2 separate regions of the Homo sapiens genome follow, and region 2 is linked to region 1. Evidence: fine-mapped expression QTL. A gene starts in region 1. The other region holds a variant in brackets. All regions are shown on one strand. Distances are between the middles of the regions.

What was found. PIP is the estimated chance that this variant, and not a neighbour inherited with it, causes the effect. A credible set is the group of variants that fine-mapping cannot tell apart.
Region 2: its variant is the best candidate, but not a certain one, in a credible set for the expression of RARA in whole blood (INTERVAL, PIP 0.80).

Annotation. Positions count from the first base shown.
Region 1 is chr17:40,306,496-40,311,865 of GRCh38, reverse strand. RARA (retinoic acid receptor alpha) reads right to left here and starts at 2,686. Exons shown (of 9, transcript NM_000964.4): 1 at 2,580-2,686. RefSeq lists enhancers at 1,490-2,373, 2,685-2,814, 2,825-2,994, 2,374-3,259.
Region 2 is chr17:40,374,030-40,379,399 of GRCh38, reverse strand. It overlaps the pseudogene RNA5SP441. Among named protein-coding and RNA genes, the nearest start is that of GJD3, 12 kb to the right of the region's middle. The variant G/A (reference allele first, on the strand shown) is at 2,354.

The sequences.
Region 1 (5,370 bases):
GGGAGAAGCTGGGGTGCTACAGTGCCAGAGGCTACTGTGCCCCCACCCCTGTCCCACCTGGGATTCCTGACACCTCCCAGCCCTAGGGGAAGGCCCTCCCCACAAAGGAGGAAGGAAACCAGCTAAGCGACTCTCTGGAGCCCTGCAGGGGAGCCCTGCACCACAGGCAGGGAAACCCAGGAGTCCTGGCGCCCAGCCCAGAGACAGTGAAATATCTTGGAGGGGAGGAAACAGCCCAGATTGAGGCAGACATGTGGCACCCCCAGAAGCTCCCAGATGTGACCTACTGGCCAAAGGGGCTAGATGAGGCAAAGTGAAACATTTCTGAACAAGAAGAGAGAAGAAAGTGGGGCTATGGGAATGGGGTGGCGGGGGTCAGCCTGGCTCATCGCTGTCCTTTCCTCCTTGTCAGAGTCAGTGACACTGACATTAAGGTCATCGAATATCAACCAGGTCCTGAGGACCTTGGTGTGTTTCCTCCTCTCCTAGTCTCCAGACCCCAGCCTGTTCATTCCTGAGCTTCCTCTGGCACCCCTTCCTTGGGGCCAAGCCAAGTAAGAAATCAGCAGGCCCAAGGTGGTGCTTGGGAGGCCGGGGCAGTGCCAGGGGCAGTCCTCATACCATCCTCCCACTGGCTTCCCTCCTGCCTGCTCTTAGCCGCCACACATATCTCAGCTGTCGAATCCGATTAGGGCTCCTGCCCAGTGAGCCAGACAAGGAGGCCACTGGGCAGGGGAGAGAGAGACAAGGACGCCAAGCAGGGATGGCAGAAGGAAGGTGGAGACATGGCTCAGGGGAGCAAGTATGGGGCCCCAGAGGAAGAAATGCCTGGTGGAGAGATCTGTACTCTGTGACCACAGGTGCTCTGGTAACAGCTACAACCTGCATTAGGGGAATTCTGCAGTAACCGGGGCAATAGCCCTGCCTAGTTCCTCCATCCCCCAGATGGGCAAAGGATGGGGGAAGAAAACTAAAGGCGGAGAGATTGACCTAGATTTAGGAAGAGGATTCCATCCTAGATTCCCCCAGCCATTACTACCGTTTGCAGTGAGCTTTACGATACATTGTCTCTGTGGTTTTAGTGGCAATGTCCCTGCTTGCTACTGATAGCCATTTTTACAAATGGAGAAACTAAGGCTTAGCAAAGGGGAAGACCTATATAAACACATATAGTTAAGTAACCAGTCTAAGTCTCCAGTTCAGGCCTCTGATTCCTAGTTCACTGCTCACAGTCAGAATCTCTACTTTCCTTGTTGGATCAAGACCAGAACGAAGTCTGAAGCCAATTCATTATCCACCCTGTCCTCTAAAACCAACCTTTAGGGGACCCGGGGAGCCATGGAAGAATGCAGAGCACACCCCACACCTAGACAGAGCTACCAGATGGGGACATGCCACCCATTCCTATCATACATTGATTGCTAGAGGAGTTCCCTCAGTGTGACCAGTCTCTTCTATCACCCCCCTCCCCAGTCTACTACCCCCAGAAGCAAGACACACACTCACACATGGTAAGTCAGACAAGGTGTACACCCTTCCTGTAAACCCACCAAACCAGAATGACACGCCCTAGATCTTCAGAGAGCAGGGCCTGTCTGCCCACCACAGGAGAGAAAAATAAGCCACTGTAAACAGTAGGTGCCATCTAGCCCTCTCCCAGAGAGCCTGTAGCGGGGCAGAAGCTTGGGGACCTTGTAGCTCTAGAGAAACACCAGGAGCCTGAGATTCTGAAAGCCAAGAAGCTCAGGGAGCTGGCAAGGCTGGGTGACCTCCTCAATCTGGTCCACACCCCCTTCCCTAGCCATCTGGACTGAGCCTGTTCTGGCCTGGGCCACACTCTGGTATCCCTCCCCTTCAATGCATGCAGCCACCTCTATCCAAAGCTTCTAGATCTTACAACCACATTGTCCCTACACACACACACACACAGGTGGGGTCGGGGGGCTTCTGCAGCAGGTGTTGAAATGTTGACATGGATGGGGGCTCTAAGCTGAAAGAACTTTCCTAGAGGAAAAGCTCACCAAAATGCTCACAACCTCCACTACCCTCTAGCAAAGCCTTTAGCCACCCAAGTGTGAGATGAACCTGGAAGGGGACATTAGTTCCCCTACAAGGTGTGTAGGGAGTAGGGGCAAAGTCCTGAGCTCTTTGGGTGAGGAAGCAAGAAAGAAATCCCTTGGGAAAGCTCAGGTCCCTCTCTGGCTCTCTCCTCTCTCTGTTACCTCAGCACTTGCCAATTCTCCAGTCTAGGTGAGGTGGGGGAAGGGGTATTAGGCAATACCGCAAAGGAGGGTGCAAGGGCGTGGGGCCTGGGCAGACCTTCCCCCTACTCCCCACTCTTATCTAGAGAACGGGAACTGCCTCAGGAGAAATGCAGGAAGGGTGCTGGAGGGTGCAGAGGGCTCTGAGCTTTCAGACACCCCACTGTTCCCAGGCTCCCACCTCCCAGGACTACAGTGAGCGACGGGAGAGGAGGGATGGGGAAAGCCAGAACTGGCGAGAAGGAAATGGCTAGATCAGAAGCAGAGGCCGGGGTCAAAGGCGGCCAAAGAATTGGGAAGGGGTGTGCATGGTCCTACCTGCTCAGGTGTGTGCTGGCAGGGGGCCGATGGGGTTCCCAGGAGAACCGGGGAAGCCCTCTCAGCTCGATTCAGGATTCCCCCCTGCTTCTGGGTTAGGCTGCTGCAAGAGGCACGGGTTCCCGTTGGGTCCTAAAGCCCACTCGCCAACTAGAAGGCTCTCCCCGCCCTCTTCCACCAGCCAGCCCCGACTGGGTCAGCGGGCGCAGAGCGAAGGACTGATGGGGGAGAAGTAACCCACTGGAAGAAAGATGGGCGTCTGGTCATCGGCTGGGGACAGGAACAGTTCCCTGTCTCAAATACACAGCATATGGATAACTCGAGGATAGGATGACCTGAAACAGGAGAAAATAGACATTTCTTCCTGCCTGCCCTGAGCAGATGGATTTAGGTTTTGGTGCTGGAGGTGGGGTTAAGATCTCTTTCCCTGCCACTCCTGCTAAGGCATTCAGCTAGAGATTTTGGAAAGGGAGCATTCATTTTGGTTGGGCGCTCACTTCTGTCCTCTTCCTCATGGACTGCAGGAGTCCCTTCATCCCTCCCAATTATTCCCAAGGACCTAGGAGGCCATAGAGGGTGAAAAAAGATTTTCAGCATGTAAAAAGTGCAGGCTCACTTAGATGGCAGCTGGAAACAGGGGAAACATGTAGGACCAATGTATGTGTATCTGGGAATGTGTGGGGTCTGCAAATACACATATATAGGCAAGAGTATAAACAGGTGGGGTTAGGGAAGGAGAAAAAAACAAAAAAGAACTTTGGGTTACACCTATTACTGGAAATGGTAATTGTCAGTGGAAGAACAGGACGTAGAACCTAGAGGTCAACTAGTGCCCCTACCCAGCCCTCAGTAATGTCCCGAATCTTTATGACCAGAATAAACAAGTTAAAGAGAGAATATTTTCCTAGATACCATTTAGGATAAATATAGGGGCAGAGGGACCTCAATACAACAGATCAACTTCAAGGTCACTGATTCAGTTTAGTATAGCCAGTCTTCTCAGTAGCTCAAAAGGGAGAATTCAGGTTTGGTGGGCTAGATGGGCAAGAGAAAGCTGGATAAGAATTCTGAAGTTGTGGATTGAGAACATTTTGCAAGGAGAGTTGCACATATCTCTAGCAGCAGAGCAGGGAAAACGTCATGAGGGGAAGGGCCAGAGGAAGTCAGCGACAGACTTGAGGGGAGAGGGCATGGCCTCTCCCTAGAAGGGGAGAAGACACCAGCAATGCCTCCACCTCTGTCTTGCAGGAAGAACTGAGTAAAGGAGCTGGACTAAGGATGGAAGGCCCCAGGGTGGAGTCCATGGGGTGAGTTTAGGTCAAACCTTTCACCCTAATGTGCCTCAGTTCTCTCCCAGCTGTTAAACAGGGCTCTTCGTTCTTCCCAGGCAGTTAATGAGTGTTTACAAAAGGGTTTGGAGATCCTCAGATCTCAGCTGGGCCACCACTACAGTTATAAAGTTCAATAAGAGCTGAGTGTTATTTGGGGAGGAGAGGAGTAGGGGAAGGAAACAGATACTCTCTTATAAACTAAGGATAAAACTAAGCTCAGAGAGAAGCACAAGCCTAGCTGCCACAGGATATCCTTGTGCCCATGGATGGAGGTCACCCCACCCCCCCATCAACCACCACCAAAGGCTGGCCTCCAGCTAGCTGTAGGCAGAACCCAGACTAGCAGCTGGTCTTCATTAACTCCAGCTTTTTCACCCCCCACTGTGAACCCACAGCTTCTACAGGCCTAGGCTAGAGGGGGCTGCCCTAGCCCGACCTTGCAGCTGACACTGGGGTGGGGGGCACCGCACCAAAGGCCAAGTTACCAGCTGAAAAGAAAGTTGAAGCAAGAGTCCTTTTTCCCATTGGGAGCAAGAAGAAAGCAGTGTGGGGGTGAGAGGGTGGAGGTGGGGGAATTTAGGGCAAACAGCAGGCAGTGAAGTCAGCTGGATTGAGGCCCAGAAACCCCCACACCCTGGGGCCAAGTCTTACTCTAGCTTTGCTTTCAGCTTAAGTCTTGGCGAGGCCCCAAACTAGGGAAGGCCCTGGTTGCCCCTTTCCGCCTCCCTACCCCCACCCTTATTAAATACACATTTTATCTCTCAGCATCTTCATTATCTTAACTGAAGGAGACAAGCAGTGGATGGCGGCAGCAGAGAGCGTCAGGAGCGGGGGGCGGTGCGGGGAGCAGGCGCACCCTTGTTATAAAGTGCTGATCTAGCTCTTTCAGGCAGTGTGGGAAACAGAGGAGGGATCAAAGGGAGTGAGGCTGATTCAGAACTCAATTAGAGCTTTTTAAAAAACGAAGCTGGCTCTCTCCTTTCACCAGTCTTCAGCCTTTACCCAAGCCCCTTGCACCCAATTAACTTCCACTACCAGTGCCTTGGGGCTGGGGTTGAAAATCAAGGGGAGGCCAGAGGGCACACCTTCTCCCCTTACGGAACACACCTCTTCTAAGAGGAAGACCTGCACTGTTTGTAGCTTAAGAGAAGGTATCTTAGAAAGTACCTTATCTTTTCAGGAAGAACCTGAGATCACAACTTGCCCCAAGTTAAAAAGAGGGACATCAAAGGTGGGCTCCTCCCTAAACCCTTGCCTACAGACCCAGCTTCTGGCCAATCTAGCCACACTGAGTGACATCCAGACAGGCAGCCCTCTTCACAGCCTGTAGATAAGACTCTTCCCCTCATAGCCAAAGCGTCCCACCAGCAACATGGAAGTTGCCTCAAGCAAAATGCCACTACATCAGAGGGAGTGATTGGAATGCATCTGTGAGGCTAATAAATGCTCCAAAACTGTGC
Region 2 (5,370 bases), 68 kb before region 1:
TATAATTGTCTCTGTTAGACAAAAGAGTCTATGAAAAGACTAAATATGAGAACATAAAAACCCATCTTTGATAAATTACAAAGTGAAAAGGTGGAGCGCTCTGGCAGACACCACATTAACTAAGTGATCAAACTTGGCACACCAGTAATGAGACCAAATGCCATAATGTGCTCCTGATGTGATGCAATGGGAAGCGTACATCATCACTCATGGAGTATCCTTGCCAAAAAGACTTAACTTGAACCTAATCATGAGCGAACAATTAGACAAAGTGAGTTATAAAACAAATTCCCACTGAAAGGGGTGAACTTGGGGACTGCTGCTGATAAAACAGACAGGCTCAACTACAAGAAAAGAAGCAACCTGGGCCTGGTGCGGTGGCTCACGCCTCTAATCCCAGTGCTTTAGGAGGCTGAGGTGGGCGGATCACGAGGTCAGGAGTCCAAGACCAGCCTGGCCAATATGGTGAAACCCCATCTCTAATAAAAAAAAAAATTAGCCACCCGTGGTGGCGCGCGCCTATAATCCCAGTTACTCAGGAGGCTGAGGCAGGAGAATCGCTTGAACCCAAGAGGCGGAGGTTGCAGTGAACCAAGATCACACCATTGCACTCCAGCCTGGGCAACAGAGCAAGACTCTGTCAAAAAAAAAAAAAAAGCAGCAACCTGGTCCCAAATCTCAGCCTTGAATCACTAACCCTAAATCTCAGTCTTCATTTATTTTTAATGTAGAAATCCTCTGTCCACCTGACATGGTCAAACTGTTCGGAGTGGGACAGATGACTTTACATCCCTGAGGGTAAAGAAATAATATGGAAATGATAAGGTAATCAAACCCATAGTATTTATAATTTAGTGTTAAAAGTCATCAGGATAATGTGTCTGTATTGCATATTTTAAATGTCTCTAATGTTTAAGAGAACGTAACATTCTTTCAACCTGTCACATTAGAGAATCTTTCAGATTTGCCTTGTAATTTCAATTTTTTTTAAGAGACAAGAGTCTTGCTCTGTCACCCGGGCTGGAATGCAATGGCACGGCTATGGCTCACTGCAGCCTCTACTACCTGGGCTCAAATGATCCTCTCATCTAGGCCTCCTGTGTAGCTGGGACTACAGACACTTGCCACCACGCCTACACCCAGCTGTTTCTTTTGGTTTTGGTTTTTACTCTCCCTCAAATCTTGGAACCCAGCTGTTTTTTTCAATTTAAATGCACAATTTTCTAGGTATGATTTAACATTGAAAGGCTTAAGGAACTTGATTAAATTTGTAAACATTATAACATTTTTGTAAAACTTAAAAGAACCTGAATTAGGGCGGGGTGCGGTGGCTCACGCCTGTAATTCCAGCAGTTTGGGACGCCGAGGTGGGAGGATCATTTGAGGTCAGGAGTTCGAGACCAGCCTCACCAATACGGTGAAATCCTGTCTCTACTGAAACTACAAAAATTAGCCGGACATCCGGACATGGTGGCGCAAGCCTGTAGTCCCAGCTACTGGGGTGGATGAAGCAGGATAATCGCTTGAACGTGGGTGGTGGAGGTTGCAGTGAGCTGAGATCGTGCCACTGCACTCCAGCCTGGGAGACAGAGCAAGGCTACTCCAACCCCAAAAAAAAAAAAAAAAAAAAAAAAAAAAAAAAAAAAAAAAGCACATGAATTACCACATTGGTAAATTTGGTTTATTTGCTTTACAAGTTGTTTTAATGCATAGGAAGATATTGTTTTTTTAGAGTTGCACGTCTGCCCCCTCAGGCATTAGAAGTGTTTAGAAATGTAATCAATTAGATGTTTTATGCTTAGGCAAATTTGACTTCTCAAAAGTGAGGTAATTAAAAATTAGATAATACGTGAAAGTGATTATTCTTATTATTATTTTGTTGAGAGACAGTCTTGCTGTTGCCCACGTTGGAGTGCAATGGCACAATCTCAGTTCACTGCAACCTCCACCGCCCAGGTTCAAACAATTCTTCCGCCTCAGCCTCCGGAGTGGGATTACAGGCGCAGGCCGCCATTCCCCGCTAATTTTTTGTATTTTAGTAAAGATTGGGTTTCACCGTATTACCCAGATTGATCTCGAACTCTTCAGCTCAGACAATCCGCTGGCCTCGACCTCCCAAAGTGCTGGTGGGTGCGGAATTGGTGGGTTCTTGGTCTCACTGACTTAAAGAATGAAGCTGTGCACCCTCGCGGTGAGTGTCACAGTTCTTAAAAACAGTGTGTGCGGAGTTCGTTCCTTCTGCTGCCTTCTGCTGTTTGGATGTGTTTGGAGTTTCTTCCTTCTGGTGGGTTTGTGGTTTCGCTGGCTGAGGACTGAAGCTGCGGACCTTCGCGGTGAGTGTTACAGCTCTTAA[G/A]GGGGCGCGTGTGGAGTTATTCATTCCTCCTGGTGAGTTCATGGCCTCACTGGCTTCAAGAGTGAAGACGCAGACCTTCCAGATGAGTGTTACAGCTCATAAAGGCAATGTGGACCCAAAGAGAGACAGCAGTAAGATCTGTACAACCTGAAAACCGTACAACAACAAATCTTCCACAATGTGGAAGGTGATCTCAGCGGGTTGCCACTGTTGGCTCCAGCAGCCTGCTTTTATTCTCTTATCTGGCCCCACCCATATCCTGCTGATTGGTCCATTTTACAGAGAGCCGATTGGTCCATTTTACAGAGAGCCGATTGGTCCATTTTACAGAGAGCTGATTGGTCCGTTTTTGACAGGGTGCTGATTGGTGCGTTTACAATCCCTGAGCTAGACAAAAAAGTTCTCCATGTCCCCACTAGATTAGCTAGATACAGAGTGTCCACACAAAGGTTCTCCAAGTCCCCACCAGAGTAGCTAGATACAAAGTGTCAATTGGTGCATTCACAAACCCTGAGCTAGACACAGGGTGCTGACTGGTGTGTTTACAAACCTTGAGCTAGATACAGAGTGATGATTGGTGTATTTACAATCCCTTAGCTAGACATAAAGGTTCTCCAAGTCTCCACCAGAGTAGCTAGATACAGAGTGTCGATTGGTGCATTCACAAACCCTGAGCCAGATACAGAGTGCCAATTGGTGTATTTACAATCCCCTAGCCTAGACATAAAGGTTCTCCAAGTCCCCACCAGACTCAGGAGCCTAGCTGGCTTCACCCAGTGGATCCCGCACCAGGGCTGCAGGTGGAGCTGCCTGCCAGTCCCGTGCCGTGTGCCTGCACTCCTCAGCCCTTGGGTGGTCGATGGGACTGGGTGCGTGGAGCAGGAGGCAGTGCTCGTCGAGGAGGCTTGGGCCGCACAGGAGCCCACAGGAGGGGAGGCTCAGGCATGGCAGGCTGCAGGTCCCGAGCCCTGCCCCGTGGGGAGGCAGCTAAGGCCCAGCAAGAAATGGAGCACAGTGCCAGTGGGCCGGCACTGCTGGGGAACCCAGCACACCCTCTGCAGCCGCTGGCCCGGATGCTAAGCCCCTCATTGCCCGGGGCCAGCAGGGCCGGCAGGCCGCTCTGAGTGCGAGTGCAAGGCCTGCCAAGTCCACGCCCACCCGGAACTCCAGCTGGCCCACAAGGGCCGAGCGTGCAGCCCCGGTTCCTGCTTGCGCCTCTCCCTCCACACCTCCCTGCAAGCTGAGGGAGCCGGCTCCGACCTTGGCCAGCCCAGAAAGGGGCTCCCACAGTGCAGCGGTGGGCTGAAGGGCTCCTCAAGTGCCACCGAAGTGGGAGCCCAGGCAGAGGAGGCACCCAGAGCGAGCAAGGGCTGCCAGCACACTGTCACCTCTCACTGGGATTACAGGTGTAAGCCACCGTGCCCGGCCCCAAATTATTAAATGTATAACTAGAATAACAAACTGTGTAAATTGGACCTGAAGGCTTAAAAGGAAAAAATTGGATTTTTTAAAATTTAAAGTTTTGATCAACTGTAAATAAATTCAAACCCAAGGATACTGATTTTGAGCTCAAAATCCCTTTCAAACATTAGAAACTCACGGGGCGCTGTGGCTCACGCCTGGAATCCCAGTTCTTAGAGAGGCAGAGGCGGGCAGATATCTTGAGCCCAGGAGTTCAGACCTGCCTGGGCAATATAGCTAGAACCTATTCTCCACAAAAAGGGGGGGAAAATGTGTAACTCAAACATTAGAAATTCAAACTGATAGTGAGGTAGGAGGCGGGACTCGACTCTGCGGGCAGGCCTGGGACACCGGACAAAATTGAGGACTAGCTAAAACAGGGATGAGTGGAAGCAGCTTTCCGTCAGTGCCCACCAGTGGGCCCTGTCAGTTTCCCATTGCCATGGCAACACCCAGGGGAGTTACCGCCCCTTTCCATGGCAACAACCTAACCACCGGGAAGTTACCATCCTTTTCCTAAAAATTTCTGCATAAACCTCCCCTTAATTTGCATATAACTAAAAGTGGGTATGCATGTGACTGCAGACCTGCCTCTGAGCTGCTTCTCTGGGCACATTGCCTATGGGGTAGCCCCGCTCCGCATGGAGCAGCACCTCTGCTGCTGCTGTGCATCAATGCGTCAATAAAAATTGCTAACACCACCAGCTCACCCTTAAATTCTTTCCTGGGCAAAGCCAAAAACTCTCTTGGGCTAAGCCTCACTTTTGGGGCTTGCCTGTCCTGCATCATCAGGAGCAAGCCAGATTACCCTATTTCATAAAGAATAGGGAAAAGACAGTCAACAAAAGAGGAGAGGGTGACCAGTGTGGAGTGTAGGAGGACAAAAAGGAGGAGGAGGGGGAGAAGAAGGAAAGAAGTCCACCGGAGAGGTGAGAGAGAGATGTGTAATGATGACTTAGAGAAAGTCTTACTCTCTGTTTTCATTGTCACCTCAATGATTTTCAGCACAGATATGCATTGCTTTTTTCTTTTTAATCAACCGTGAGTTGTAATTTACATACATAAAATGCACCCATTCTTTTTTTTTTTTCAGACGGAGTCTCACTCTGTCACCCAGGCTGGAGTGAAGTGATGCAATCTCAGCTCACTGCAATCTCTGCCTCCTGGGTTGAAGCAATTCTCCTGCTTCAGCCTCCCGAGTAGCTCGGACCACAGGCACCCGCCACCACACCTGGCTAATTTTTGTATTTTAATGGAGATGGGGTTTCACCATGTTGGCCAGGCTGGTCTTGAACTCCTTACCTCAGGTGATTCGCCCAATTCAGCCTCCCAAAGTGCTGGGGTTACAGGCATGAGCCACCGCGCCCGGCCATAAAATGCATTCATTCCAAGTGTAAAGATTGATGACTTTTTGATAAAGGTGAACTCCTCCCTTCCAAGTGCTAACCAGACCCAACCCTGCTTAGCTTCCAAGTTCAGGGTGGTATGGCTGTAAATGGTAAATGTATCCACTTGAACAACCGCAATCACAATCAAGATATAAAGCATTTCTATCA